Homo sapiens: one gene and its partner. The protein of the gene in region 1 purifies or fractionates together with the protein of each later gene. This does not show direct contact. Each region holds a gene or a part of one and is shown in the gene's direction. Other genes may lie near its edges.

Evidence for each region.
Region 2: the proteins of MTCL1 (region 1) and KATNAL2 purify together in Homo sapiens (tandem affinity purification; one large-scale study listed by IntAct). This does not show direct contact.

What each region holds. Positions count from the first base shown.
Region 1 is NC_000018.10:8,708,556-8,712,055, forward strand, and holds part of MTCL1 (microtubule cross-linking factor 1), read left to right. Parts: intron 1-3,500. UniProt on the Homo sapiens protein: Microtubule-associated factor involved in the late phase of epithelial polarization and microtubule dynamics regulation.
Region 2 is NC_000018.10:47,053,602-47,057,101, forward strand, and holds part of KATNAL2 (katanin p60 ATPase-containing subunit A-like 2), read left to right. Parts: intron 1-794; coding exon 795-837; exon of another isoform or gene 838-849; intron 850-3,500.

The sequences.
Region 1 (3,500 bases):
TGCGTTTCCCCAGAGCCTCTGCCCATTTTACTGCACCGGGATGCAGCCCTATTTCCAGCGAGGCTGCTTTCCTCCGAGCACACTGCTTCTGAGTTGTTTTCGTAGCTCAAAATGTTCCTTGTGGTGAGCTTTTCTAGGGGCCCTCTGTTTTCTTTTCAGGTGAGAGGGCCGTCATGCCCGTCTCTCCACTAGCCTGTGTACGAATGGTCACATAAATCCCACTGCCAGTGTTTCAGTTGTGGGGACTGTTCAGTTGCCATTTACTGTGGAGAAGGTGTCACTTGCATCCGTTTACTCTGCCTGAGGCCACCTCCCCACTGTTCCTCCGACAGCAGGGGAGAGAAGAGGGTTGTGAAGGAGGCTAGCAAACCAGATGATTGCGTGTATGCATGTGAGGTACTCATTTGGCCACTCAGAAGCTTAAATGACAATAGTTCAATTCGGGAAGGAAACGCAGGGATCCTAATGGACTTTTCTACAGGTCGTGGAGCCTGCCCACATGTGCAAAATTGGGCCCAGAGCTTCAGGGACCCCCTGTGGCAGAGGCAGTAGTCATGCCTTTGCAGTGGTGGTTAGCGTGTGCCCTTTATAAATCAAAACTTCTCTTTTTGTTATTTTCAGGGGTATTTTTTCCGTTTTTTGTGGTTTTTTTTTGAAGGGATGGTCTTGCTCCGTGGCCCAGGCTGGAGTGCAGTGGCATGATCATAGCTCACTACAACCTTGAACCCGTGGGCTCAAGTGATCTTCCTGCCTCATCCTGATAAGTAGCTGGGACCACAGGAACACACCACCAAGCTGGGCTAATTTTTAAATTTTTTTATAGAGACAGGGTCTGGCTATGTTGTCCAGGCTTGTCTTGAACTCCTGGCTTCAAGTGATCCTCCCTCCTTGCCCTCCCAAAGTGCTAGGATTACAAGTTTGAGCCTCTGTGCCTCGTGGGGTACTTTTTAAAGAGGGTAGATAAAAGTACGTCCTTGACCTGCTGCTTTGTTAGGGAGCACTGCACAGAACTAACTCTCAGGATTAGGTATAGCATTCATCTATTCCAATGTATCTGATAAGAGGCTCGGCCCACAAATTTTACGTTGCTATATTCTGGAGCATTCCAAGTAAGTGCTGTCATCATTGTTGTACAAGACTGTGACAGTTTCTGAACTAGAATGACCAAAGCCCAATTCAATAGAAAAATAAGTCCAGCAAAACCTTAGGAGGATATTCTTCGGATCAGGACATTTAAGTGGAATTATCTTGGCTTTTAGCCAGGCTGCTGTATTTTTTATTTTATTTTTATTTATTTTTTTTGAGACGGAGTCTTGCTTTGTCGTGCAGGCTGGAATGCAGTGGCGTGATCTCGGCTCACTGCACCCTCCGCCTCCCAGATTCAAGCAGTTCTCCTGCCTCAGCCTCCGGAGTAGCTGGGATTACAAGTGCCCGCCACCACGCCCAGCTAGTTTTTGAATTTTTAGTAGAGACAGGGTTTCACCATGTTGGCCAGGCTGGTCTTGAACTCCTGACTTCAGGTGATCTGCCCGCCTCGGCTTCCCAAAGTGCTGGGATTACAGGCATGAGCCACCGCGCCCGGCCTGGCCTGTATTTTTTTAAATAGTCAGTGTCAACAGAGAAGCGGACACCTTGTGTTGTGCTGTAACAGAGCAAATTTGGTCGTCCCTGACTCTGCTTTCTGTTCCTTCTCCACCTTCATCAAATGGTGCCTGGGTGACTAGGTGAAAAATGCAAAATCAATCCAGGTAGCTGGCTTTTGTGTGAAAACACAGACAGAAAAGCACTCTTGTTGTCCTTTGACCTCTGATAAACTCAAATACATTTGGAAGTATTCAGAAATTCAGGTGAGCACTTCAGTTATCCAAAGGCCTGGGCTTCTCATAAAACCCAGGCACTTTCTTTTTTTTTTTTTTTTTTTTTCTCTTTAATTATGGTAAATATTTAATGTTTCCTTATAAAATAATTACAGCCTTAATAGAAACAAAACTGTTGAAAGTGTACCTGGATGACAATAATGGTTAAATATACACTTTAATAATTTAAAGTGATGAGTTTTTTTTTTTCACAAAAGTTTAAGGTGGTAATGAAATCATTGGAATCCCTTTTACCAAAGTGAATTTTAAAAATTACATTTTCCCTCTTGCAATCATGTTTGTAGCATAAAGGAGCAATAAATGGGGGCAGGGAGTAAAGCTTGGGAACTAGTCTATGTTAGGCTTGAGTAGTCTAGGGCAATGTCTGATAAAGGAGGGGTTTGAATTTTGGTATGGAAGGCTTTCTTTTTTTTTTTTTTTTTTTTAATCTGTTTTCTTTTTTCTTTTTTTTTTTACTTTTTTTTTTTTTATTATACTTTAAGTTTTAGGGTACATGTGCACATTGTGCAGGTTAGTTACATATGTATACATGTGCCATGCTGGTGTGCTGCACCCACTAACTCGTCATCTAGCATTAGGTATATCTCCCAATGCTATCCCTCCCCACTCCCCCTACTCCTCGACAGTCCCCAGAGTGTGATATTCCCCTTCCTGTGTCCATGTGATCTCATTGTTCAATTCCCACCTATGAGTGAGAATATGCGGTGTTTGGTTTTTTGTTCTTGTGATAGTTTACTGAGAATGATGATTTCCAGTTTCATCCATGTCCCTACAAAGGACATGAACTCATCATTTTTTATGGCTGCATAGTATTCCATGGTGTATATGTGCCACATTTTCTTAATCCAGTCTATCATTGTTGGACATTTGGGTTGGTTCCAAGTCTTTGCTATTGTGAATAATGCCGCAATAAACATACGTGTGCATGTGTCTTTATAGCAGCATGATTTCTAGTCCTTTGGGTATATACCCAGTAATGGGATGGCTGGGTCAAATGGTATTTCTAGTTCTAGATCCCTGAGGAATCGCCACACTGACTTCCACAATGGTTGAACTAGTTTACAGTCCCACCAACAGTGTAAAAGTGTTCCTATTTCTCCACATCCTCTCCAGCACCTGTTGTTTCCTGACTTTTTAATGATTGCCATTCTAACTGATGTGAGATGATATCTCATAGTGGTTTTGATTTGCATTTCTCTGATGGCCAGTGATGGTGAGCATTTTTTCATGTGTTTTTTGGCTGCATAAATGTCTTCTTTTGAGAAGTGTCTGTTCATGTCCTTCGCCCACTTTTTGATGGGGTTGTTTGTTTTTTTCTTGTAAATTTGTTTGAGTTCATTGTAGATTCTGGATATTAGCCCTTTGTCAGATGAGTAGGTTGCAAAAATTTTCTCCCATGTTGTAGGTTGAACCCAGGCACTTTCTTAATGCTGAGGACTTTGGTAAAGCGCTGGTGTGTTCCTTCCCTGCCAGGCTGCCAAGACTGTGTTTTGCTCGAGTGCTCGGAGACAGTCAGACAAGCCGGAGTGCTCGTTGTCAACATATTAATTATGTTCTCTGTTTCCACAGGCTTTTCAGGAGGATTTAATCAGTTGGCATTTATGAGCCTATTTTGAAAATGCT
Region 2 (3,500 bases), about 38 Mb from region 1:
TTGACTGAGAAGTCTGTAAGTGGGGGAAGTAATTATAAACCAAGGGAGATCATTGTCCTGTTTACAAGCCACTTGTTAAGCCACAGACTTTAACATTTCATGTAGGGACCGGGAAACCAAGAGGAACATCAATTTAAAATAGCCAGGGCCAGATCTCAGAGCTAGAAAAGGTCAAAGAGGTATTTTATCTGAGCTCCCTTCCAATGCAGCATTCAGAGCTTGACTTCCTTGGCAGGTGGTTAGATGTGGGCCTTGAAGAGACAGCCCAGACTCCTAAACACAGGGTGATCAGCACTGTTAGTGACATGATCTCACTTCCAGATGGCTAGTTCCCATCTAGCATGATACCCAAATTCTCCTATGATATTGGACACGTTATTTTTATTTTAACTAGCAGAGTATGACTTCAGTGTTCCCTGCCAGATTCGTGCAATCATCCTGGTGTCCCATGTAATGCAGCAAAATGGTGTCAAGTTCATGAAAGCGTAATGAAATGGTAGCTGTAAAGCTAGCCTATATTGGAGTTGCCACCAGGTCCACAGTCTCTGACATGTTTAATATCTGAGCCCTTTGCAATCTTCCTCTGTGAGGAGATGCTGGAGAAGCTCAGGCCTCTTTCTCTTCGCTGGTAATTTCAGTTCTCTCTAGATGAGAATAGCTTAAAGTCTCTAGATTCCAATTGGTTAAAACTCAAATTTTAAGAACAATGCAAAAAGGGGAAACATACCTGAAAAAAATCACTTTGTCACTCTTAAAATTATTTTCTTTCCCTCCCAATGTCTGTTTTGTCACAGCAGAAAATAATTTACCGCAAAGAAGTAGAGGGAAGACCAGAAGGTAAAGTGAATGGTAATTCTTCTTAATCGACTCGGCTCGAGGAGCTTGTGGAATCCCTTTCCAGAAGCTTTACCATCACAGCTCTGTGACTGTCTCCCAGCAATACTGACTGCAGTCATGTGACCTGGCCCAGCCCAGGACTTCTCTCATTACAGCTGCCCCAGATTTGGGCCAATGTCCGTCTACTCTCCTGGTTTTACTGTAAATAAGTATATCCTGTGATGCTCTGTCTTTCCAGGCCATGTGGTATGAAAAGTCTTAACCTCAAAGGTTAAAAGACCCAGGTTCAACTCCTGGCTCTGCTATTTACAAGCATGGAGCAAGTTTTGGACACATAGTGAGTTCCTGGCACACAGTGAGCACCCAAGATATAATATTTTCCCTCTTTTCATCATTTAGTTAATTTCAAGCACTCCCAGATCAGATGTCCTGACCTGTCTGAAGATCAACAATGAGCCAGGAGGTGTGAGCTCAGGCTTCTGGCTTCGCCAGTCCTGACCAGTGGGGACCCATTCTTCTCTTGCTTTTCCCTCCTGTTCACAGCTCATCTTGCATTCCTTTCTCCAGCTTCTCAAGTCCAAATCTCATTTGGGGCTTGTAGCCTCTGATGGGAGCCCCTCTGTCTCTGGACCTTTTTGGGTGCACATATTCTCTCACAAGGCCCCCTACTCTTGCCAGTGTCCTTCGCATTCCTCTCGCCCCACTCCCATAGACCCCTCCACTGTCAGAGCTGTTCAGAAATACCCAGGGGAACAAGGGTGCTGCTGCCGGCTGCCAGTGAGGGCCAGCTCTGGGGCATCGCAACCTGTGGGCTGTTGCTATTACAGTAGGGCCTAAACCTCATGGAAAGACACAGCCATCCAAGCAGTCAACAAAGTGTTTAAAGTCTTAAAATGCTCTTGGAAAAAGAAAAGTTAGATTGTAATCACATGCAACTTATTAGGCCCTCAAGAGGTATGGATTCTGTTATGCCTCCGCTACATTTCCCACCCCTGCGACTCCAGTTCCCTTGTTCCAGCCTCAGAAGGAAGGGCCTAGGACACTTTACAGGGCTGGTGGGCACAGCTTGCAAAAATGGCTGTGGAGCCCACGCACGCTCCACGATCCTACTTGTTATAATACTTGGCCTCGGGCTACCTTTGCTTTGTGCTATTCTGCAGGAAGAGTTTTATCGCTTTGACAAAAGTGTTATTCTTTTATTTATAGTTTCCACAAAGTTAGTCAGACTCTGGGTAATAAATGATAACTGCTTGTGCATAGAAATCATGAGGAGCGTTTGCAGCCAGCTTCGGAAGGCTTTTGGATTCTATTTTTCTGGAACCTTCTCAGCATTCTTCCCTGGCAAATGCTCTGTGAGTGAATGGTGTCAGAGTGCTTTGTTCCCCTTAGGCAAGGAGCACCGTGGCACATTTGACAGTGTGGGGGCTCCTCAGCTCCTCTCTGAGTAGATGTTTGTATGTGGCAAGTGTAAAAGTTGAATAGCAAATGGTTAGAATCAGGAGGAATAACTAGGAAAGTAATGAATGGTGTTTCTGCGGACAATTTATACTCAAATATAGTTACTAAAATGAGACATGTCATGAGACTGGCTATTAGCAAATCAAAGTGTCTTTTCCTAATCTTGGAAAAGATTTATAATCCCCACTTAAAGATTTGCTGATGAACCAAGGGAGGAAAGGTTATCTAATGTGATGGATGACAGAAATGGGATCCCAAAAGATCTTGGCAATTCCAGAGATGGGTTCAAAGTAACAAGACGAAATTTAATAAAATAAGGTTTAAGCTCTAACAAGAGTTACAACAAATAGCTCCTCCATTACAAAATCAGAGACCTGGAAATCTCAGTTTACCTGGGCCAACAGTGTGACATGAGTGCTACTGTGGTCCCAGCCCCATCAATAGAAATACAGTGTCCAAAAAATAGGAGGTCACACTATTCTGGAAGGTGACCAGTATGAGGAACAATCTGGGAACCAGGTAACTTTAGAAATGACTAGAGCAACTGCAGATGTTGAGCTTGAACAGATGGCTGGTGGAGGGGCACTCCTTAGAACATTGCAGGAACAGGCTTCAGTTCACCCTCTAAAGGGCGATTGGGCCTTTTCTGCCAAATTCCACAGGGTGCACCTAGGACTAATGGTTAAAGTCAAAGCAGAGTGAATTTGGTTCCATGTTCAGAAGAATTTTACCATCCTCAGAACCAATTTAAAATAAATTGCATTGCTTTGTACATTAGTGCTCTTGTATTTTGGTCTTGTTAAAGCAGATCTTGGGGATCAGTTGCATCCAATGGGAAATCAAAGTGGGAATATAGAATCCCTGTTTCCTGCCAGCTCCACAAGGATGGTGAGGCAAGTTTAAATACAGACACACACACACACAAACACATAAACACACACACACACTTCCACACACACATATATAACTTCTCTTGAGTCAACACTATTAATATAAGTTTGCATTTGTAAAATGCTTGGTTTTCATTTCATAGATATTTTATTTTTGTGCCAGCAAAAGGGTAGAGAAAGACATTCTTATTCCTAGTTTAAAGATAGAAAAAAAAAACCCCAAGAACTGTTAGTGTCCACTTCTCATGACGCTCTCCCCAGTGAGACCAACACTCACAGATGTGTCACCATGTGGACATTGGTGGTGTTATCGAC